Homo sapiens: one gene and its partners. The protein of the gene in region 3 purifies or fractionates together with the protein of the main gene of each other region. This does not show direct contact. Each region holds a gene or a part of one and is shown on either strand. Other genes may lie near its edges. The genes, in order: KATNA1, CALU, ASPM, RCN2, DNAJB2, LIMS1 and TUBGCP3.

Region 1 (3,500 bases), on a different chromosome or scaffold from region 3:
GCCTTAACTCCTCAGGCTCAAGCAATCCTCCCACCCAGCCTCCAGAGTAGCTGGGGCCACAGGCACAAACCAACATGCCTGGCTTATATTTTTTTTAGAGATGGGTTATTGTTATGTTGCCCAAGATTAGTTTTTAAATTGCGTCAAGATTCCTTTTCTCTTTTATTTTTGAGGTGGAGCCTTACTCTCAAAACTAGGGCCATTTTACTGCATTCCAGACTGGATGACAGAATGAGACCCTGTCTCTAAAAAATATTTGAAAAAAAAAAAAAAGACTGCTTTTAAAAAAATACCTTGGTTGCATATGAATTGAGACCTATTTTAGTCTGTAGGTTGTGACCCATTAGCCATAAAATTAGTATATTCTGATCAGTGTTGTATTGATTTTTAGAAATTATTTACTGATATATAATAGTTGTACATATCTTGGGCATACACATTATATTTTGATTCCTGTATACAATATCTAATGATCAAATCAGGGTAATTGGGATTAATCAGCATTTTAAAAGTTAATTAAACAGAATAAAAATTATCAAAGTAGGGCTGGGCATGGTGGCTCACACCTGTAATCCCAGCACTTTGAGAAGCTGAGGTGAGAGGATGGCTTGAACCCAGGAGTTTGAGGTTATGGTGAGCTATGATCGTGCCACTGTAGTACAGCCTGGGCAACAGAATGAAACCTTGTCTCTAAAACATAAAAATAAAAGTTTGACAAAAATGAAACTTTCACAAGTTGTGCTTTGATGGTTTTTTTTCCCCCTTGGGCTCAAGCAATTCTCTCACCTCAGCCTCTAAAGTAGGCAGGACTACAGGCATGGGCCACCATGCCCAGCTAATTATTCTTGTAGAACTTTAAAGTTATGCCTAACTTTTCAATTTGTTATGCAATTTATTTTATTTTATTTTATTTTATTTTATTTTATTTTATTTTATTTTTTTGAGATGGAGTCTTGCTCTGTTGCCCAGGCAGGAGTGCAATGGTGCGATCTCGGCTCACTGCAACTTCCGCCTCCTGGGTTCAAGCGATTGTTGTGGCTCGGCCTCCCAAGTAGCTGAGATTCCAGGTGCCCGCCACCACACCCAGCTAATTTTTGTATTTTTAATAGAGATGGGGTTTCAACATGTTGGCCAGGCTGGTCTTGAATGCCTGACCTCAGGTGATCTGCCCTCCTTGGCCTCCCAAAGTGTTGAGATTACAGGTGTGAGCCACCGCGCCTGGCCTGTTATGCAATTTATTTATTTATTTATTTATTTGAGCCGGAGTTTCACTCTTGTTGCCCAGGCTGGAGTGCAATGGTGTGATCTCCGGCTTGCCGCAACCTCCGCCTCCCAGGTTCAAGCGATTCTCCTGCCTCAGCCTCCCGAGTAGCTGGGATTACGTGCATGTGCCACCACACCCGGCTATGCAATTTAAATAAGAATATAAATTAGTAGTATGATTTAGTTAGCCTGGATTTTTTTTTTATTTTTTATTTTTTTGAGACAGATTCTTGCTATGTTGCCCAGGCTGGAGTGCAGTGGCGTGATCTTGGCTTTCTGCAACCTCCATCTCCTGGGCTCAAGAGATTCCCCTGCCTCAGCCTCCCAGGTAGCTGGGCCTGTAGGTGCCTGCCCCCATGCCTGGCTAACTTTTTGTATTTTTAGTAGAGATGGGGTTTTTACCATGTTGGCCAGGCTTGTCTCAAACTCCTGAGCTCAAGTGATCCATCTACCTCAGCCTCCCTAAAGTGCTGGGATTACAGGCGTGGATGTTTCCTATCCTGGATGTTTTAATTCATTTTATCAGAATTAATTTTGCAATTGAGGGCCGAGCGCAGTGGCTCACGCCTGTAATCCCAGCATTTTGGGAGGCCTAGGCGGGTGGATCACGAGGTCAGGAGATCAAGACCATCCTGGCTAACATGGTGAAACCCTGTCTCTACTAAAAATACACAAAATTAGCCAGGCGTGGTGGCGGGCGCCTGTAGTCCCAGCTACTCGGGAGGCTGAGGCAGGAGAATGGCCTGAACCCAGGAAGCAGAGCTTGCAATGAGCCGAGAGTGATCACGCCACTGCACTCCAGCCTGGGCGACAGAGTGAGACTCCATCTCCAAAAAAAAAAAAAAAAAAAATTGCAATTGAAAACATAAATTTAATAAACTGTTATTAACATTTTGATAGAATATCTTGATGTGGTTTACTGGATATCTGATATCAAAATGGAGTTTTGTAACATCTCTAGTAAATGGCCCTCATTTAATTTTGACAGTGATATATTATAGAAATTTAAACATCCATCTTCTTCTTTGAAATCAGGTTTGGCAGGAAATAAATGTGGAAGCTAAACATGTTAAAGATATCATGAAAACACTAGAGAGCTTTAAACTGGACAGCACTCCCTTGAAAGCGGCACAGCATGACCTTCCAGCTTCTGAGGGAGAAGTCTGGTCCATGCCTGTACCTGTTGAACGAAGGTAAGTGGAAACCTTTTAAGAAACCAGTTATCCCAAGAAGCTTATAGCATTGATTATATTTAGGAGGAGGATGGGGTGGCTGAGAGACAGGAATGGGAGGGAGTTTTCTTTACTGAACGTTCTCTCTTTTATAACTCACTGGTCTTGAACCTTGTGCCTTTTTGACCTATTTCAAAAAATAAGATTTAGGTAGGAATAATTTAAAAATATGCTTTTGTGAATGACCTTACAGTGGTAGAGACAGTGTTATCTTGTGGAAGGAGAATGGGGTTAGGAATTGAAATATCCAAGCTCCGTGTCTGTCTTTGCCACTCTCTGTAGCTTTGGGAAAATAATAAAACCTTTTTAGGCCTCAGATTTTTCTTTTTTTTCTTTTTTTTTTTTTTAGACAGAGTCTCACTCTGTCACGAGGCTGGAGTGCAGTGGCACGATCTCGGCTCGCTGCAATCTCTGCCTCCCGGGTTCAAGTGACTTCCCTGCCTCAGCCTCCTGAGCAGCTGGGACTACAGGCACACACCACCTGTATTTTAGTAGAGACGGGGTTTCACCATGTTGGCCAGGCTGGTCTCGTTCTCCTCACCTCGTGATCCACCTGCCTCAGCCTCCCAAAGTGCTGGGATTACAGGCCTGAGCCACCGTGCCCAGCCAGGCCTCAGATTTTTCTTACGCAAAGAGAGGAAGTTAGACTAACAGTGGTTCTCAAACAGGGATCACAGAATACTTCTTTTCATCAAGCTATAATGAAAAATGGAAAATTTTTCTAAATTTGCTAAAATTGAAAAAATTGGCTTTTTAATTCATAGAGAACAGTAAAAATAAAATGTTCTGAATTTTAGGGTTTTCTCTGGCTTTTTTTCCCCAACTTCCTACTACCAAGTGCCAGCAGATGAACAACTAGTGATACTGATATTTACTGAAATACTGTAACTAGCCAATCATGCATAGTTTTACTGCACATTTTTCAACTGACAAGTGTGCAGGTGGATGTTATCTATTTCACTTACATAATAGATTTCCTAGTTTGTATTATAGATTTAAATATTG
Region 2 (3,500 bases), on a different chromosome or scaffold from region 3:
TTCTGGTGAATATCCATCCAGCTCAGAGAACTGGAATTTTACTACCACACCCATTTCTCCCAATTGTTAACATTGAGCAATGGGTCTTTGGTCAACCATAATAACTGTTGGATCACTCAGTGTTAACGTTCTTGTGAAGTTGAATTTAAACATCTAAATTTCCCTGAAACAATTTAAGTATTCTGTGACCAATGGCACTTTACCAAAATTGAAAGTTTGGGCCATGTATTGCTCGCAATACTGGTCCAATGGATACACTATGGACACTAAGGACAAAAACTTCCTTGAAAGCTCTAAGTTCTTACCTGAAGGGTGGGGTAGGGAGAAGTGATAAGAATTTAGAGCTTTTAAGGACATTTTTGGATGGATCGAAGAAACCAATTCTTAAGACTCATTATTATTAAAATCACACTTAACCCAGTTAGGCTTTTCTCTTTATAAATTACTGGAACGATTCATGAAAACAACTTTATAGAAGACCATTATTGGTGACATACTAATACTACAAAAGGATGATAGCTACTGGATATATTTTCTGTTCTAATCTTTTGGTTTGTGTCTAACATGCTGTCCAATAAAAATATAATACAAGCCACATATGTAATTTTAAATTTTCAGGTGAAAATCTAAAACAGGTGAAAGTAATTTTAATAATGTTTAATCTAATACATATAAAATACCATTCTTTCAATATGAAATGTAACACTTATACCAATCGCAATTCACACTAGCCACATTTCAAGTGCTTAGTAGTCACATGTGGCTAGTGGCTACTGTACTGGGCAGTACAGGCCTAGATTTTTTTTTTTTCCCAAGAAAAAAATATTAGATGTTACCCTTCGTGGAAGAGGGACAGAATTTTAGAGAGAGAAACTCATTTGAGAAATGGGAGGTGGGGAAATTCAGTTTTCACAACCATTGGTTTACTTTCTAGATCACATGATAAAAGCTCATACAGCTAAGTCTTTTGTTTATGTGTATCATATTTTTCCTAATATTATGTTGTCCATTATGTCCATAGTATATCCATTGGACCAGTATTGTGATCAGTATGTATGGCCCAATGGATACACAAAGATCTTTCCAGCTGGAAGTGATCTGTACCTATTCCTCTAAACTTTTTTTTTACTTTTTGGACAAAAGTATCCAATTTAAACTTTTTTTTTTCTTTTTCTTTTTTTGAGACAGGGTCTTGTTCCCTCACCAAGGCTGGAGTGTGGTGGCATGATCATGACTCACTGTAACCTCGTGTCTCCGGGGCTCAGGCGATCCTCCCACTTCAGCTTCCCCGGTAGCTGGGACTATAGCTGCGCCACCACACCCAGCTAATTTTTTGTATTTTTGGTGGAGATGGGATTGCCTAGGCTGGTCTTGAACACCAGCATTCCATCCGCCTTGGCCCTCCAAAGTGCTGGGATTACAGGCTTGAGCCACTGCTGCTGGCCCAGTCTAAACTTTTATAAAGTGTTGAAGTGGGTGAGGAAAATGAGAAGGGCCATTAACTTTGTATCATTTGGTTTCAATTTGGTTGAAAAGACAAAGATGCTTCAGAAATGAAGTGTACTGGCTGGTCATGGTAGCTCACACCTGTAATCCCGACACTTTGGGAGGCCGAGACGGGAGAATCACTTGAGGTCAGGAGTTTGAGACCAACCTGGACAACATGGTGAAACCCTGTATCTACTAAAAATACAAAAATTATTCGGGCGTGGTAGACCATGCCTGTAATCCCAGCTATTGAGGAGGCTGAGGCAGGAGAATCACTTGAACCCAGGAGGTGGAGGTTGCAGTGAGCCAAGATCACACCACTGCACTCCATCCTGGGCAACAGAGACAGACTCAGTCTCAACAAAAGAAAACGAAGTGCACTAAAGTAGATTTTCAAATGCTGTGTATGAAGTTATTTTTTACTGTTCCTTTCACATCTTCCCACGTAAGATATCCTTTGTCTTAGATGTCCTTTGTTTCTGCTTGAACATACATGCTCCATACCAAAAACCATATGGTTTTAGATAAATCTAGTACAGTTTTTGGTATGGATGGTGTTTTTTGTTTTTAGTGTCTATATTCATAAAACAAGAGGGCTTTGTTAAAGTTTCTAATAGCCAGGAGTTGTTATATATGTGGGCACAAAGGACGTTTTGTTTTTTTTTAAGTAGAACTTCTTTAAAGTGCAGATTTTTCATTCCTCCCTGCAGAAAGATAAAGAAGTAAAGATGGACCATTGGCTTTGTCCATCTGGGTCCTTGATGACCGTTGTAGGCAGTTTCATCAATAGTAAGGAAGCCAGGTTTCAGGGTAGCATTGGACAGTGAGGAAGCAGAGGCAGCAGGGTAGAAACTGTGGGTGAGGGAAAGGGAGGAGCAAGCATGAAGGAACAGCACAGTCTGGGAAAGACTGTGGGTAGTGGAGACCTGAGAAGCACTGATTGACAGAATGGAGGAGCCTGTTTAAGGGATGAGATTGAAAGTTTATTCAGGAGAGGGGAAGGAAGGAGAAATGGGTGAGTGATAAAGCTAAATCACTTGGCTTCTACTCTTTGGAATTCTGGTATCCTTGTATCAAGATATTAAGCCTGAAACATAAATGTAGTTTTCCCTCTAAATCACAGAGTAAACCAATCTATTACATTTCTGTATGCTACATGTCTCAAAACTTGGTACAGTATCCTTTCCAGGACCAGATTATGTTAGAGTGCATAAGTATTTATTCATATTGTAATATTTGGGGTTGGCAAGAATTGTTAGGGTATTATGCTATATTTTATTTTGAGAATGTAATCATTTGTAAAATTTTCCTAAAGATAAAGTCCCCTTAGGCATAAGGAAAATCCTTTGTTGCAGTGACTCTTGATTTTACTTGATTCTGCAAGCCTCTGTCACTATACATATTGTTGGGATATATCCCAAAACATCAACAACATATAATTCTGTTTTTTGTTTCCAAAGTTTTGTTTATCTAAAGAATTATTTGTTTATAGGCTGGGTATGGTGGCTTACGACTGTAATCCCAGCACTTTGGGAGGCCAGGGCTGGAGGATCGCTTGAGACCAGTCTGGGCAACATAGTGAGACTCTACAACATTTTTTTTTTTTTAATTTGCTGTGCATGGTGGTACACACTTGTATTCCCAGCTACTTGGGAGGCTGAAGTGGGAGGATGGTCTGAGCCCCAGAGGACCAGACTGCAGTGAGCTATCATCACACCACTATATCTAGCCTGGGTGACAGAGTAAGACCCTGTCTCAAAAAAAGAATTGTTTATAGTTTGAGATAGAAGTTTCATTTTGCCCTGAAGTAAAGGCATACTCACTTTAATGTTGTATTTATAGAGCCGCTAAATCTCGGATTTTCTGTTTACTCTTTAACTGATTTGATTGATCAGTTGAATTATTGGAGGGTCAGCCAGAGTGTTGTTCACCCAGAGCAATATTTTACAAGTGGTGCACACAGAAAGCTAATAAACATGAGAGTGTGCTGTTCATACAAATTAGACAGTACA
Region 3 (3,500 bases):
GTCACTACAAAAAAAATCAACTAAAGATAAAAGAAGTTAACAACTGAGAAAATGACTGGCAAAAATCAGTAACTCTGACTTATTAAAACTCTCCATGCTACATAAATCTGGAAACTCTATTTCACATAAAACTGGAGCTGAAAGAGACAAATATTTACTTATAAAATTAAAAGTTATATGGGAAACAAACACTAATTTTTTTTAGAAAAAATATGAACAGAGTAAAAATATGCCTTATAGTTATCATATAATATCATGTTTTATAGCTCTGGGAAAATAGAAAATAAAATGTTCTGTTAGCATGAATCCTTCTGTGCCCTAAAAAAACCCTATGGATCATACTATTATTACCTAAAAAGTCTATTCTCAAATGCAGCAGAGTGATAATTTTTATAAGGTAGATATTATTTTTAGATATGGAATAATATTGGTGATTTCAATTTTAATAACATTGGATTAAGATGAAAGAATGAGAAGATAAAGGTCCCTCAGCAATATAACTCACAAACATGTTCAGAAGCAGTAAGAAGTCACATTAATTATTTTTTGAAAGTCAATAATCTACATTTTTAATTTATGCATATAGCATAGCTAATGTACTATTGCTGGGTCCATTTATTCAAGGAATAATTGCCGCTATGTGTCAGACATTGTTCTAGGCCTAGGAATGGACACTTAAGTGAACAAAGCAAAGATTCTGGTTCTTGTAGTTTCCATTAAAAGACCATTTAGTAAAATTTTTCTTCCCCCAAATTATAAAATCTGTAAGATGATTTAACAACATGTATAAAAGTCATCGTAGGCCGGGCATGGTGGCTCATACCAGGTGTAGTGACTCATAGCGCTCTGTCACTCATGCTGGAGTGCAGTGGCACAATCTCTGTTCACTGCACCTCTGCCTCCTGGGTATAAGCGACTCTCCCGCCTCAGCCTTTCGAGTAGCAGGGACTACAGGTGCACACCATCATGCCCAGCCAACTTCTGCATTATCAGTAGGGATGGGGTTTCACCATGCCAGCCGGGCAGGTCACAAACTCCTGACCTCAAGTGATCCGCCCACTTTGGCCTCCCAAAGTGCTGGGACCACAGGTGTAAGCCACTGCACCCAGCCTTATTTTTACAACTTTGATAACTTTAGCGTATACCCCAAATCTGTAAGACATAATATTATCATTCAAATGCAACTCATGGCTTCTCATTGTACTCTGATTTTCTCTAGCTTTTGAATTCTTTATTCTAATATCAGTTTTAAGTCTGACATAAAAGCATGAGAGTTCTAATCAAAATCCAATCTTTTATCATAATAAAAACTATCAAGAAATTATTAGAATTTAAAAAGGAAAATAGGCCTATTAATTAGATTTGTATAACATAATATTTTATGCCTATGAGTCCCCAACAAAGCCTCAAGCTTCTATTTAGATATAAAATGTAAAAGTCACTACTGGATCCACAAGCAGGACTATGGTAAAGAAATTTCTCCACCTAAACTGCTCCTTTAACATGATGTTACATGTTTATTTTTTCATTTTGGCAAATATTGATTGAATGTCATCTTCGTGTTAGTCTACATCCTAAGTGCCAGGATACAGAATCTGAAAAGATGGACACAGGACCTGTCTTCAGGGAGTTCACACCTTTTTATTTCTTGAGATGGAGTCCCGCCCTTGTCGCCCAGGCTGGAGTGCAATGGCAAGAACCTGGCTCGCTGCAACCTCCACCTCTGGGGCCCAAGTGACTCTCCCAGCCTCCCAAGCAGCTGGGACCACAGGTACCGGCCACCAAGCCCAGCCAACTCTTGTATTCCCAGCAGAGACAGGGCCTCATCATCCTGGTCAGGCTGGTCTTGAACTCCTGACCTCAGATGGTCCACCTGCCTCAGCCTCCCAAAGTGCTGGGATCACAGGCATGAGCCACCACGCCCCACTAGGAGTTCACACTTTAGTTAGGGAAAATATACAATAAGCAAGCCAATTTTTAAAATAAGAACTTCAATCAGATTTAAATGCTACAAATACAATCACAGGAAGCTGGGATGTGAATGATAGGGCTCTCAAACAGAAAATTAAGAGAAACGATTATTTCTTACGATGTTTGTCTTTCTTTGTATTGGTGCTCAGCTGAGTCTGCAGTGCCTCAGAAGCAGCCTTCATTTTATAAAAAATCTATTATTTCTCCTTCCAGTTGTTTTTTCTCTTCTTCGAGCTTCCTTATCTCCTCCTGTTGAATCATTTTAAGATGCTTGAACTTGTCCTGCAGCTCTTTTTCAGCTTCTTTCTCCTTGACTCGCTGCATAAATCTGTTTCAACTCTTCTTCTCTCTGACATTGATCATAGCACTCTTGTCTTTTGGCTTCAAAGATTTCTTGAAAACTAACTGGCTGGTTGTCTGGGCCCAGATCTGTAAAGCCCATTTTCTGCAGTTTTTGGTACCTACAGCATTCATAGTGCTGAGTGTAGGTTTTTCTTTTAGATTTTCCACATTGGTACAAAGAAGCATATCTTGGAGCTTAACGAAGTCACAGTGATTTTCATTTTCCACTTGGAAAACTCCCCAAGGCTAGTGACGGCCTCTGACCATCCTTTTACCAACTTTCACTTCATCCATACTCCCTACCACAGCAAAGGATAACAGCCCATGTTTTTGGCCGGGCGCGGTGGCTCACGCCTGAAATCCCAGCACCCTGGGAGGCGAGGGGAGGGATCACGAGGTCAGGAGATTGCCCGACCACCCCGGCCAACACGGTGAAACCCCGTCTCCACTAAAAATACAAAAAAATTAGCCGGGCATGGTCGTGGGTGCCCGCAGTCCAAATATCTGTCTTTTCTTTATGCTAGAAACATCAGTTATTCTCTTCTAGCTATTTTGAAATATACAATAATTACTATAGTGACCCTACTGATCTATTGAACATTTGGTCTTTATTTCTTTTATCAAACAGAAAGTTGACACAATATCCTGTCATTTTAATACACACTTTAACAATTCTTCCAGGCTGTTATTCAACAACAAAAATCAATTCATTTCCATGTGAAATGCAATTAATGCTTCATTCGATGTCATGTTTTCAGAGAGTTTAAGTATAATAAATACTTGCCTGTTTTTAATGGTTTTATGAAGGTCAAACTGGACTGTGCCACAGCGATAATGGGTTTTGTCCTTTTGTTTGTTTTAGAAATTGGAGTTCTGAATATTGATAAATCTAAAATAAATTAGAAAACAAAACTAAGAGCATTAAAATACAAATTCCCTAAATAGGTCAGTGATTTGAAAGTTAAAGTTTGGGTTCTTCACAATCATATTCATTTAGCAAACACTTAATAACCACTGTACTCCACGCACTAATGCTATGAATTCAGTGGTTTATCAAACCAACATCCAGAAGTCACAGACCATAAACCACAATTTATTTTGTGTTTACAGAGGCTAAAGTCTAGATTCAACCAAAACTTATTGTGTCTGTATATTCCAGACTCTCTACGAGGTGCTGAGAATATGCA
Region 4 (3,500 bases), on a different chromosome or scaffold from region 3:
CACTGAAGGTAACACAGTTATGAGAGAAAATAGCCTGAGGAAGCCTGCTGTTCATACATAGTACAGAGATTTAAAAATTCAGTCTTTCACCTTCTCCCTCCCAATAAGCAACTTCGTCACCACAAGAAAGCCTCCTTACCAAGCCTAATTTTAAGTGGGGAGAATGAGCATCATTTTAAATCTGTGTATCTCTTAAAATTCTGGTTATACAATTCATTTTAACAACTTAATGAACAGGTTTTAAAGTTTTGGTTACTTGGAAATGTAAATTCATACAACCACTATGGAGAACAGTTTGGAGGTTCCTCAAAAAACTAAAAATAGAGCTACCATATGATCCAGCAATCCCACTGCTGGGTATATACCCAAAAGAAAGGAAACCACTATGTCAAAGAAATATCTGCACTCCCATGTTTGTTGTAGCACTGTTCACAAAAGCCAAGATTTGGAAGCAACCCAAGCGTACATCAACAGATGAATGGATAAAGAAAATGTACATATACACAATGGAGTACTATTCAGTCATAAAAAAGAAAGAGATCCTGCAACAACATGTTGATCCACACAACAGCATGGATGAACTGGAGATCATATTAAGTGAAATAAGTCAGGCACAGAAAGACAAACATCCCATGTTCTCACTCATTTGTGGGATCTAAAAATCAAAACAATTGAACTCATGGACATAGACGGTAGAAGATGGTTACCAGAGACTGGGAAGTGTTGGGGGAGGGGGCGCTGAGAACAGTTAATGAGTACAAAAAAAACAGTAAGAATGAATAAGATCTATTATTTGACAGCATAACAGGGTTGACTATAGTCAGTAGTAACTAATTATACATTTTAAAATAACTAAAAGAGTGTTCACGGGATTGTTAGTAACACAAAGGATAAAAGTTCGAGGGGATGGATACCTCATTGTCTATGATCTGATTATTTCACATTGCATGCCTGTATCAAAACATCTCGGCCGGGCGCGGTGGCTCACGCTTATAATCCCAGCACTTTGGCAAGCCGAGGCGGGCGGATCACGAGGTCAGGAGATTGAGACCACGGTGAAACCCCGTCTCTACTGAAAATACAAAAAATTAGCCAGGTGTAGTGGCGGGCGCCTGTAGTTCCAGCTACTCAGAGAGGCTGAGGCAGGAGAATGGCGTGAACACGGGAGGCGGAGCTTGCAGTAAGCCGAGATCGCCCCACTGCACTCCAGCCTGGGCGACAGAGCGATACTCCGTCTCAAAAAAAAAAAAAAAAAAAAAAAAAAGTCTCATGTATCCCATAAACATATATACCTACTATGTACCCACAAAAATTTTAAATATATTTTTTTAAAGTTTTGGTCACTCAATAATTCTCTTAAAAATGTTTCTTTCTTACCGTCATATAATCAACTTCTTCAGGATGCTCAAAAGCAATAAATTCTTCAAGACTCAAACCGGGACCTGAATCCTGGTTAGCTTTTTCAAATCGCTTCTTGTCCTTTAAGTGAAGCTTTGAAAATTAAAATTTCTCATTAGTATACCACATCATTTTAAATACTTTGAAAAATACAAACTATGTGAAATTTAAAGTACATTCCCATCCGTTATCTCATTTATCTTCACATCGTCCCTTTGAAGGTAAGCTACACAAATACATGTATTAGGGGCAGGATAGACTCACAAGCTCTAGAGTCATATAGACCCAGACCTGAATTCCAGCAATGCCACTTACTAGCTGTGGTGTCAGCGCAAACTGCTTAACCTCTCTGGTTTCCTCATCTATCAAACTGGGATAAAAATCTCTAATAAGCAATTGGGATGAGAATCCCTACCACACCATTAATAAACCTTAAGTATTTAGTGTTATATACTATTATTGATAGAAAAGCAGATTGAATGATTTGATAAAAGTCAGAAATACAGCTAAAAAATACTGAGCATGGCATAGTGGCGCACGCCTGTAGTTCCAGCAACTTGGGAAGACTGCATGAGCCCAGAAGTTCAAGGCCAGCCTTCACACCATAGCAAGACCCTGACTCAAAAAACAAACAAAACTACTGAACTTGGATCCTCCCTATTCTTTCTACAGTACTATACTGTCTACTTTAATAATTAATCTCAATACTTTTTTGAATGCCCAAAAATCAATAACTTTATACCATGTATTAAATCTTGGTAGGGCTTTTAAAAAATGTTTCTGGTCCTCTAAGTGACTTTTCAAAAATACATTATTGTTTCAGAAAAACAGTCTTCTTATGTTGAGAATCTCATAATATTAGTATATGTACCTAATATTTGGAAATCTTTTCTTTTTTGGGGGGTGGGGAGATGAGGTCTCACTCCGTCATCCAGGTTGGAGTACAGTGGTGCAATCTCGGCTTACTGAAACCTCCACCGCCCAGGTTCAAGTGATCCTCCCACCCCAGCCTCCCAAGTAGTGGGGACCACAGGCATGTGCCACCACACCCAGCTAATTTTTTGTATTTTTGATAGAGATGGGGTTTCACTATGTTGCCCAGGCTGGTCTCAAACTCCTGAGCTCAGGCTATCCACCTGCCTCAGCCTCCCAAAATGCTGGGACTACAGGCATGAGTCACCGTGCTCAGCCTGGAAGTCTAGTCTTAGCAGGCTCTTTATAGTGTTAATTCTGTATATTCAGATATAAATAACATCAAAAGTTTAAATGGATCCCATGTTAAGGTTTAATAAACACATATCCTTTTCTACTTTCTCTCCCATCTTCCCATCCACCCCCCTTTTTAAAAATGATTCGGCAGCTATCAGGGACAAGGCTGCTTTTGATAAAATTTTCAATGGTAATTCTGTAACCAAGAGCCTTGGGAGCCAATAATGCTATACTGCTAATCCTGCATAATTTCTGTTTTGAGAATTTCTGGGAATAGCTTTCCTTCCTATAAACTGATATGTATTAAACTGTGCATTTTTTTAAAGCACAATTTCAAATATTTTAGAAGCTTTTAAGTGTTTCACTACTGAATAAAAATACCCTCTTCAGTCTTCTAGAATAATAGAGGTCAGGTAGCAGTCATTTACCTAAACACTAGTTCTTTTACAATTACTGATTTACAGCGGAGAGGCTCACCTCTTTCCCCAAAGAATTTGTTTTATTAACATCAGACTCTACAAGCCAGTTATATTCACCCAATCATGACAGAAAAGAAAAAATAATAACTTGTTTCCAAATAGCTTTTAACTTAATGTTTCAAAATTTTAAATAACTAGACCAAATAATTTGCATTTTATGTTCAGGTTTAACATGGTAAAAGCAGACAAACAAGAATTTGAGGTACTTTGCTGAGTCAATCAAGTTCTTTTTGAATAAACCATTATTCAAAATACCAAGTGCTTTGATTTCCTTATGAAAGAACCCTTCACTTTGGAGCAAAAAGGTCCATGTTTCAGGAGAAGAGCTAAATTTGGCCAAATTTGCCTATGGAAAGAAAGGATCTCTTTCAACAAGCTGAGATTTCTTTAAAAAAAAAAAAAGTGAAGGGGGTA
Region 5 (2,515 bases), on a different chromosome or scaffold from region 3:
TTTTGTTGTTTTTTGGGGGGTTTTTTTTTTGGTATTTTTTTAAGTAGAGATGGGGTTTTGCCACGTTGGCCAGGCTGGTCTCAAACTTCTGGCCTCAAGTGATCTGCCCGCCTCAGCCTCCCAAAGTGCTAAGATTATAGGCGTGAGCCACCGCGCCCAGCCTCAGTTAAGTCTTAACTTGAGTATGGTCCTAGCTGTGCTGTGGAGTACTAGGGGGTGAGGCCACTCATAAGGGGAACATCGGCTGCTAGGGAAAGCCAGTTGTAGGCCCCCAAGAGGTGAAAGCAAAGAATGAAGCATTGCTTGGGGTTCCATAACATACCTGGGGAGGGCAGCCTGGTCAAAGAGGGCATTTCTGCCTTCAACTGGCAAGGCCTGCACCTCTAGCTGTAGGGGCATAAAGGGAGGTGTGAGGCCTGAGGTGTCACCCACTGTCCCTTAGAGGCCCTCCTGGGCCACCCCGGAAAGTAGGAACCCAAGAACACAACACACCACCAAGCTCTCAAAACTCAGTTTTATTGACTTCCAGCATTTCCCCCTGGATCTGAGCTCAGCCCAGCTGGTTTTGGTTCGTCTCTGAGGCTCAGTGTTACAGCGACTGGCTCCACCACTCCCCTCCCTGGCCACTGGGCTCCCCAGGCAGGGAGGAGGAGAGGCAGTTCATCTGTGATGTTGGAAAGAATGGGCAGCAGGGTCAGAGGCCAAAGAAAGCCATACAAGCAGCGGCATGCCTGGAGCTGCCATCACATGCCAAGCCCCACCACACACACGCCCCCGCGGGTGGCCTTGCCCTCGAAGCTCTCTGCCAGCCCACACTCCTCAGCTTTCTGGGGCCACACCCTGCTCAGGCAGACATGCCACTCGCCCTGGCTTGTTCCTGGGACCCCAGGCTGCCCAAGGGAAAGGTACCGCTCCCAGGTGCTGCGCGGCTCTGCCCTGCCCACTCTAACCCTGGGGCTAGCAAGACGTGTCAGGGGAACCAAGGCTCAGATCATTCCCCCTTCATCTACAACCCTGCCAGCCCTACAGGGATAAATCAAAAGACAAAATCTCCCCATCTCACAGCGAGTGACAAGCCGACCTGGGCTACTACATGTCCCAAGATGCACAGCTCCGTAACCATACACCACCTCCCCCAAGCGGGATCTATCAGAAATGAGGCCGGGCACACCGCACTCTGGGATTTGTAGTCCCCAGGAGCCAGCACCAAACACCCAAGGAAGAGAGTGCACAGGCTAAGACTACTGCCACCTCCCACCCGGCCCCCACCCGCCACCCAGGCCCCGGCTCTACACTCAGCATGGGTGAGGGGGAGAAATGGAGGGTCCCCTCCCAGCGCATGGGGGAAGGCGCTGTCCTGTTGGAACTGTGCAGCGATTCTGGAACCCGGCATCCAGCTCAGAACACATCTGGGGAGAGAGCAGGGGCGGGGTGACAGGAGAGAGCGTCAGCGGCAAGCTGTGGAGGATGGGGCTCAGCATGCAGACCTGGGCTGGCCGCATGGCCTCTCCCTGAGCCCTGATTTGTGGTAGGGAAGCAGTATGGGTGCAGTCCCCTCCTAGGCCTCCCTCTGGGGTCCCCCGGTCCTATCCCACCTCTTCAGGGTGAGCCAGCCTCACCTCTGCCTAGTCCTGAGGGTGAGGGCAGGCTGAGGCAACGAGAGGGAGGAGGAGTGGGCTCCAGTTCTGAATCTGGACAGCTGAGAGGCTCCCGCCCCACCCGGCTAGCCTCCCCAGAAGATCTCACAGCCCTACCGGCCCCAGCATCTTCCTCGCCACATTGAGGCCTTCTCGGGGAAGGAAGGAAGAAGGGAGTCCTAGCCAGACGGCAGTGAAAGCAAGCGATGCGGCCCGCAGGGAGTTGCAGAGAGAATGGGAGGGAGGAGAAGCAACACCAGAAGAGAAGCAACAGAGACGGTCAGAGCGCAACATGGCACAGAAACCAGGGTTGGGGGTCTGCAGCTGGTCCAGGAGAGCAGGAGGCTCCACTCTGCCTGCACTGCTCTCCAGTGGAGCTGCCGGCTCCGGCTCAGACAACCCTAGGCCAAGTCCTCCTTCCTTGACACCATCAGCAACACAGGTGGCAGAGTACCAGGGCACAAAAGGCCCAGCCCAAACCACTAATGCCCCTTGGAGCTCCCCATCCAATAAATGCAACCTGGCTCCTCGGGCCCCTCCACTGCCCTGACACCCCCCACCCTGGGCTTCACCAGGGACCTATCAGCCCTGGGCTGAGCACAGCAAATCCCAAGTCCACACTGGGGTGTGGGGGGCCTGGGAGGGAAACTTGTGGAGGGAGCTTGGAGTTGGAAAGCAGTTCCTACAACTCAGGATACTCCCCTCTTCTCTTCCCACAGTGAGTCAGACCCCCCAGTCAAGATCTGGATCAGATCAGGTTGGGCCCGGTGTTCAGAGGATGAGGCAGCGAGAGGCCTTCTCCTCTGGGGATGGACTGCGTTTGGTTGCTTCACCCCTCGCACCCTCCTGGGTCCCCCCCAAGCCTGGATCTTGGTGCT
Region 6 (3,500 bases), on a different chromosome or scaffold from region 3:
CACAGTGATGTTATCAGCCAGCACCATGCCTGGGAGATCACCAGGGCAGGAGAGGTATAAAATGCTCCAGGGGCAAGGTTCTGAGAAGATGCCCTGCCACTGTATGAGGCCACAACCTGCTGTGTATAACCTCATCTAAGCACAGAGAAGCACCAGGTGAACCCAAGTGGAAAGTAGTCTATTAAAAAGGGGTTAGGGGCCCTCTGCATCCCTCCAAAATGTCAATGTCATCAAAAATTTTAAAAGACTCTGGAAACGTTCCAGATTTAAGAAGGCTAAAGAAACATCACAGCCAGAGGCTGGGTCCAGTCTGGGAGTGGAAAAAATGCTGTGAGGATATTGACTCAAGTGACAAAACTGGAATAAATGGTTAGAGTACGGTATCAATATTGATAACTACAATTATGTTAGAGAGTCCCATATTCTTGGGAAATATACACTGAAGTATTTAGGGATAAAGGAGTATGATGAACTTATTGGCAAAACAGCCATCGTACTTGTATATAATATTTACGTAACTATGTGTTTTACACAGGAAGACTGAGCTTGGGAAATGATAAAGCAAACTGTGGACTTGAATGAAAGACATACAGGTATTCTTTGTATATTTTATAGTTAGCTTCTGAGTCTGAAATTATTTCCCAAATAAAAAGTTAAAAACAAATCTCTACTGAACAATGTACATCTTCCAAGAGATTTCCTTGTAGCTAAACTACTGATAAGCTTAGGTTCATAAAAGTCTATCTAGCATCCAGTGACTAAGGTCAATACCTGGTTATAGTGAGTTTCACAATATGCCAGGCCTTTCCTCTCATAATGGCGATGTCCAAGAAAGGGTTTCTCACACTTGGCACAAACAAAATGCTGAAAAAAAATTGCTATAGGTCATTTTTGAATTGCCATATTTTATATCTAATAAAGTAAATACCAGAGTTAACCTATTTTCAGAGAAGATGAAGGAAAGTTTGAGACAGTCATTTCATTTGGCCATAGGTGGCCCCATAATATAATACTTCTGCAGTTGTAATTCAGGTGTCTGTCTTTGAAGGTTACTTTAAGACATAGCCTATTATAATAGCCCAAAAAGAGAATAGAGGTGAGCATCTCAGTAGCACCTATAAAGGAGGAGCTGCTGCTGGATACAGACCATGGCACTTCCTGCTTCAAGAAGGCTTTAGGAGCAAAAGTACACATCCTGTATCATTACTGAGACATTCACAAAAGCAGTGTACATTATATATTCTTAGCTGTCAGCAAAGTCAATTGTCTTTAAAATGTCCACGTTTAATCTTTAGAGTCTCCTAATCTTGCCAGGACACCTGAATCATGAAGATTTGAAAGTACTGGTTACCCCTGAATCATGGGAGATCTGAAAGTATTGGTTACCCCTTAATCATGGAGATTTGAAAGGATTGGTTACCCTTTGCCATTTAGAACTCACCTCCACATGCCACTGCTTGCCCATAGCGTTCACCACGCGCCCTTCGATGGGCCGTCGGCAAGCACCACAGATGGGGACCCCCATTTTATCATGGCATGGGAGGCAGTATAGCTCCCCTTTCAGCTCCCGTGCATCGGCAGTCAGCTCCTTCCTGTCCGTGAGAAAGACACACAGCTTAATACTAAGAGAGAAAAGTGGCCAACCAATGGGGCTAGCACACTTTTTAGAAGGTTTTTAAAGACATTACTATGACAATCCCTGCAAATTTCTTTTTTCCCCTTTAGAGGTGATCAGAATAACCTGAATTAATAGGCCTGAACAGGTTTCAGACTCCTACCAAAACATCTGTATCTTAAAAGGATAAGATGCAAGACTAGGTCAGATACATACCACCACACCAGTCATATTCATAATTTCCTTCTTATATTATCACATTACATTTTAGTCCATTTGTCTTCCTCTAAAAGCTACAGGGAATAATCACAGTGCTGAGGGTAGACTCAGTAATACTATCTGCTATGGTGTGACTGTGTCCCCAAAGTTCATGATCCCCAATTCTGAGGTGTTGAGAGGTAGGACCTCTAAGGGGTGATTACATCATGAAGGCTCTGCCCTCACAGATGGATTAACGCTGTTACTGAGGGGGTGGGTTCCTTATAAAAGGACGAGTTCAGCCTCCTTCCTTCTCTTCCTTCCCCCCTCCTCTTCCCCCACCATGTGATGCCCTCTGCTATGTAATGATGCAGAAGAAGGTCCTCACCAGATGCCAGCCCCTTGATCTTGGACTTCCCAGCCTCCAGAACCATGAGCCAAATAAACTTCTGTTGGTTACAAATTACCCAGTTTGTGGTATTCTGTTACAGGCGCATAAAATAGACTAACACACGACCTTTCCAAGCAAACTGAGAAGTTGGGAGACTAGTTCCATTTACTAACAATTATTTAAATTGTCACAAGCTGTTGAAAATAGTTATAGGTTAATAGGTTTATTTTCATAAACAACAAAATGCCCAGAATTTTCCTTCTCCAAATACTCAAATTAAATATTATTTTCAGTCTCCTGCATCAATAAACATTTGGTCAGAGATGGTCCCAATTAGTCAAACGGACTTGTTTGAATTTCATCCCTTTTATGTAATTCTCTAGGAGAGATGCTAATGAAAAGTGGACAGAGGTGAATCCCCAAGAGGAAGGACAGGCAAGAAAACGAGATAAGGCACAAACTGATAATTCAATCACAAAAGATGAGATGGCTGAACTTATACAACCAAACTGTTTTCTTTCTTTCTCTTTTTTTTTTTTTTTTTTTGAGACGAGTCTTGCTTTGCTGCCCAGGCTGGAGTGCAGTGGCGCGATCCACACTCACTGCAAGCTCCACCTCCCAGGTTCATGCCATTCTCCTGCCTCAGCCTCCCGAGTAGCTGGGACTACAGGCACCCACCACCACGCCTGGCTAATTTTTTTATTCTTAGTAGAGATGGGGTTTCACCATGTTAGCCAGGATGGTCTCGATCTCCTGACCTCGTGATCCACCCGCCTCGGCCTCCCAAAGTGCTGGGATTACAGGCGTGTGCCACTGCACCTGGCCCAAACTGTTTTCTTAGTATTTGGCTTACTGTTTCTTCTCCATCCCTACTATAATTTAGCAAGTAAGTTCACATTAACTACAGTAAAGAATATTTTTTTATTTTTATTTTTTGAGATGGAGTCACGCTCTGTCTCCCAGGTTCGAGTGCAGTGGTGCGATCTCAGCTCACTGCAACCTCCGCCTTCCGGGTTCCTGCCATTCTCCTGCCTCAGCCTTCCAAGTAGCTGGGACTATAGGCACCCGCCACCGTGCCCGGCTAATTTTTTTTGTATTTTTTAGTAGAGACGGGGTTTCACCGTGTTAGCCAGGATGGTCTTGATCTCCTGACCTCGTGATCTGCCCGCCTCGGCCTCCCAAAGTGCTGGGATTACAGGTGTGAGCCACCACGCCCGGCCAAGAATCTTTATCCACTAAATTTTTATACTAGGCAGCAAACTGAGAAAAATTCATAGCCCAACAATTTATCATAAC
Region 7 (3,500 bases), on a different chromosome or scaffold from region 3:
TTTAGAATCATCCTCTTAAATTTAGAACTATGCCCAGAGACATAGTTTTAGTGAATGTTGTTGACTTCTCTCCTGATGAAAATGGAATAAAATAAGAACTGTTTCAGTTCTTTCCTGTTCTCCTTACTTCACGAGTGGATTATGGATAAACCCCCCCAGTATTGCACCAGTACTAAATCCAAGCTCTGGCACCTGGAAACTGTAGAGCAGCTGAGGTTCTCATTTTTGTGTTTTGTAGTCCCAGGAAGTGATATTTTTGTTGCACCTGTCAAAACTGACGCTATTAGAAATCAGCTATGAGGTTCTTACATTTTTCAAAAAACAACTTTGACATAGTCTCAAAATTGCTGACAAGCCATCTTGACCTTGAATATGCATTTGCCTTAGATTTTATACGTTTGTATACTTTAGCAGTTAATTGAAAATTGCAGTTTCTTTTCATAGTGAGCACTCTGAAGGCTGAAGACAGGTGAGGCCAGGCGCCTGGGGCAGTGTCACAGTGACTCGATTCCTCTGCTCAGTACATGGGGAGTGAACGAGAGTTGTGGATTTTGAAGTTAAAATAAGTAGAGAATTTCAAAGTGGTTATGGGGTGGGTAAGGTATGTTATATGTTTATAAAGAAAAGCCAAATAGATTTTGATATTAATGGTAAGAAATATATATTGTAAGGTAGCAGTAAGATGATTTTTCCACTGCTGTGTTGGGTCCGAATGCTAGGCCAAGGGTCGCAAGGAGGCTTGACCAAGTTCAAGGGACTTGGGACTGTCTGTTATTGATATATTCGGTTAGGGTAAAGTCATGGTATCAGCTATACCAGATTTATAAATTTATGTAATTCACGATAGTAATACAAGAGAAATTTCTAGGGACACTTTTGTCTCTTCAGCGAATAGCCTATTAGAAGATAATACATGTTTCTTTTTTTAGACAGTCTAATCAAGCTCCAGGAGTAGGAGATTGCCTTCGACAGCAGTTGGGGTCACGACTCGCATGGACTTTAACTGCAAATCAGCCTTCTTCACAAGCCACTACCTCAAAAGGTGTCCCCAGTGCTGTGTCTCGCAACATGACAAGGTCCAGGAGAGAAGGGGATACGGGTGGTGAGTAAGGATCTATGTTAATACAGCTTTTCTGTGAACACTTGGAATTCAGCCTCTCCTTATTTTAAAGTACAGCCCAGGAGCCCCACCTCAAACCTTTTAGTGGTTTCTTCTTGTTCTTATGATGAAGTCCAGAGTCCCTGGTGGTCTGCGGCGCCTTGGGGAGTTTGGCTTTTCACCCCAGGCCACCTGGGCTTTTTCCTCCCAGCACAGTCTGCTTTTTGGCTGCTTTTCCATGTGGCCTCCTCCCTCCACATCTCTCGTCTTTGCTGTTCCTCATCACATTCTCCCTGTCTGTTTTCATCCTGCCGTTTCCCTGGGAAAGTCTTTAAGGCTGGGTTAGGCCCCCAGTAAAAGTCACCTTCTTCTACCAAAGTCTTAAGGCCACAGAGGGGCTATGTCTTTTCATTTATGGTGCCAGTGCTCAGCACAGTGCCTGGCACGTCGAAGAGAGTCATTGAGGAATTACTGAATGGTGAGATGAATACCTCATGGAGGGTTTTAAAGCCCTGCTAGATTCCAAAAGGAAGCTTGAGTTTCTTTATTGAGAACACTACAGTTAGCAGCATTTGAAACATGAGTGTCCTGAAAACAGAGGATTGGGTTTCCCTGTTGGCTCGTAATCTGCTGATTACGAAATGGCTCTGGATGTTACCTGTACCTGTCCTTGCGTAGAATGCAAAGGTGAGGAGCATCTGAGAGCTGGAGGACATCCTGGCACAGTATTAGCCCCCGCAGTAGTCTCCACCATCTGCCCCACTCCGCCTGTCCCTGTGTGTGGCTCCCGCGTCCAGCCTCTGTCCACAGCTGCAGATTCATGTCGTGTTTGACAGCTGTGCGTTCATGGCACAGCAGGCCAACCTCTAGACTGAGACTCGCCTTGTTTCTTTCTAATCTCATACTCTTTTTCATCTTGAGCTTATTTATTGAGTTAGTAAATTTCATCGGGGTGGCAAATATCTAATCTGAAGCTAATTGCACCATAATATCTATTGTCTGTTAAAATATTGTCTAGTAATTACTGTCTTTAAAAAATGATTTTGCAGGTACTATGGAAATTACAGAAGCAGCTCTGGTAAGGGACATTTTGTACGTCTTTCAGGGCATAGATGGCAAAAACATCAAAATGAACAACACTGAAAATTGTTACAAAGTAGAAGGAAAGGTACAGTAACATAAAATCTAAGTTAAAATATTCAGAAAGAAAAAACATGTCATGAAGTCCAGATAGTGGCTGTTGATTGATAAGGTGGTACTGGGGTTTTGCGAATCGGTTGTGAGGTGAAATTGCACTGTGGAATTCTGGTTTCTATTTCTGTCCATTGTGGCTCGTTCAGTTTTGTTATGGGGACCCTTTGTGATTAATGTGTGCCTCCTTTCCTCACGTCTACTGATGGGGCTGCCCCATAGCTGATTTCTGCATCCTGCTGTGTGATGGCTGAGGCACCCAGGGGACAGAGGTCCCTTGGCACCTTCGGCATTGATGCAGGATTCCAGGTCAGGGGTCTTCACCCACTTTTGTTTCCTTTTTCCATAATCTGCCTTTACCATGCCCATTTCTTGTGGTGTGGGTCACACTGTGGCTCTTAGCCCTTTCACAGCGTGGCTGAGATCACAGACCTTCTCTGCCACACCGCAGGCCAACTGCAGGGTGGTGTGAAATGAGCTCACCATGCCCTTTGAGGTGCTTTCCATCATGCTGTCACTTAATGTGCTTTCCTTCCCTTTAGTGATGGGATCTTAGTTTTAACTTTTATGTCTTGAAGCCTAAGGATTATAGTATTAAAAGTAGAAGTGCTTGAGAAAAATACTAATTAAAGCTCTAGTATTGCTTTTTAATGTTTAACATTTGATGTATTTACTTTTTAGGCAAATCTAAGTAGGTCTTTGAGAGACACAGCAGTCAGGCTTTCTGAGTTGGGATGGTTGCATAATAAAATCAGAAGATACACGGACCAGAGGAGCCTGGACCGCTCATTCGGACTCGTCGGGCAGGTGCGTTCATGGTTCCTAGGATGCTGGGATGCTGCGCACTTTGGGAAACGCTTACTCTAGTTGAAATCTTACTGTGAAATAGCTCCTTCTAAGGCTCTTTCCAAGTAAAGCAGCTTTGAGAGTCAACTTTCAGGGTCCACTCAAGACAGTAGAAACCACAGTAGGTGCTGATGAGGACACTGAATACAGCAGGTTGGCTCAGGAACTGCTGGAGGACTGTAAAATACAGAGAAAATGGTGAGACAGAGCTGGCCATGGGGAGCTGGCATTGCCCGATTCCAAACGCTCGAAGGGGGCCCTGCCCAGCTGCTGCTGCCTCCTCCAGAAGGTTGAGGAGGGGCCCTGCTGGGACGGGGCCTGCCAACAGGGGACACTCCCAGCTGCGTGATTCCCCAGGCAGCAC

The links.
Region 1: the proteins of ASPM (region 3) and KATNA1 purify together in Homo sapiens (pull-down; one study listed by IntAct). This does not show direct contact.
Region 2: the proteins of ASPM (region 3) and CALU purify together in Homo sapiens (affinity purification with mass spectrometry; one large-scale study listed by BioGRID and IntAct). This does not show direct contact.
Region 4: the proteins of ASPM (region 3) and RCN2 purify together in Homo sapiens (affinity purification with mass spectrometry; 2 studies listed by BioGRID and IntAct, with this or other methods). This does not show direct contact.
Region 5: the proteins of ASPM (region 3) and DNAJB2 purify together in Homo sapiens (co-immunoprecipitation; one large-scale study listed by IntAct). This does not show direct contact.
Region 6: the proteins of ASPM (region 3) and LIMS1 purify together in Homo sapiens (affinity purification with mass spectrometry; one large-scale study listed by BioGRID and IntAct). This does not show direct contact.
Region 7: the proteins of ASPM (region 3) and TUBGCP3 purify together in Homo sapiens (pull-down; one study listed by IntAct). This does not show direct contact.

The regions. Positions count from the first base shown.
Region 1 is NC_000006.12:149,631,715-149,635,214, reverse strand, and holds part of KATNA1 (katanin p60 ATPase-containing subunit A1), read left to right. Parts: intron 1-2,298; coding exon 2,299-2,456; intron 2,457-3,500. UniProt on the Homo sapiens protein: Catalytic subunit of a complex which severs microtubules in an ATP-dependent manner. Microtubule severing may promote rapid reorganization of cellular microtubule arrays and the release of microtubules from the centrosome following nucleation.
Region 2 is NC_000007.14:128,742,359-128,745,858, forward strand, and holds part of CALU (calumenin isoform a precursor), read left to right. Parts: intron 1-3,500. UniProt on the Homo sapiens protein: Involved in regulation of vitamin K-dependent carboxylation of multiple N-terminal glutamate residues. Seems to inhibit gamma-carboxylase GGCX. Binds 7 calcium ions with a low affinity.
Region 3 is NC_000001.11:197,136,670-197,140,169, forward strand, and holds part of ASPM (abnormal spindle-like microcephaly-associated protein), read right to left. Parts: intron 3,203-3,500; coding exon 3,098-3,202; intron 2,639-3,097; exon of another isoform or gene 1,879-2,638; intron 1-1,878. UniProt on the Homo sapiens protein: Involved in mitotic spindle regulation and coordination of mitotic processes.
Region 4 is NC_000015.10:76,941,749-76,945,248, reverse strand, and holds part of RCN2 (reticulocalbin-2 isoform a precursor), read right to left. Parts: intron 1,492-3,500; coding exon 1,378-1,491; intron 1-1,377.
Region 5 is NC_000002.12:219,284,881-219,287,395, reverse strand, and holds the end of DNAJB2 (dnaJ homolog subfamily B member 2), read right to left. Parts: coding exon 2,409-2,515; 3' UTR 1,410-2,408; coding exon of another isoform or gene 1,399-1,409; 3' UTR 501-1,398; downstream 1-500. UniProt on the Homo sapiens protein: Functions as a co-chaperone, regulating the substrate binding and activating the ATPase activity of chaperones of the HSP70/heat shock protein 70 family. In parallel, also contributes to the ubiquitin-dependent proteasomal degradation of misfolded proteins.
Region 6 is NC_000002.12:108,673,970-108,677,469, reverse strand, and holds part of LIMS1 (LIM and senescent cell antigen-like-containing domain protein 1), read right to left. Parts: intron 1,593-3,500; coding exon 1,442-1,592; intron 865-1,441; coding exon 772-864; intron 676-771; exon of another isoform or gene 540-675; intron 157-539; exon of another isoform or gene 1-156. UniProt on the Homo sapiens protein: Within the IPP (ILK-PINCH-PARVIN) complex, binds to F-actin, promoting F-actin bundling, a process required to generate force for actin cytoskeleton reorganization and subsequent dynamic cell adhesion events such as cell spreading and migration.
Region 7 is NC_000013.11:112,553,654-112,557,153, reverse strand, and holds part of TUBGCP3 (gamma-tubulin complex component 3), read left to right. Parts: intron 1-929; coding exon 930-1,102; intron 1,103-2,148; coding exon 2,149-2,267; intron 2,268-2,971; coding exon 2,972-3,097; intron 3,098-3,500. UniProt on the Homo sapiens protein: Component of the gamma-tubulin ring complex (gTuRC) which mediates microtubule nucleation.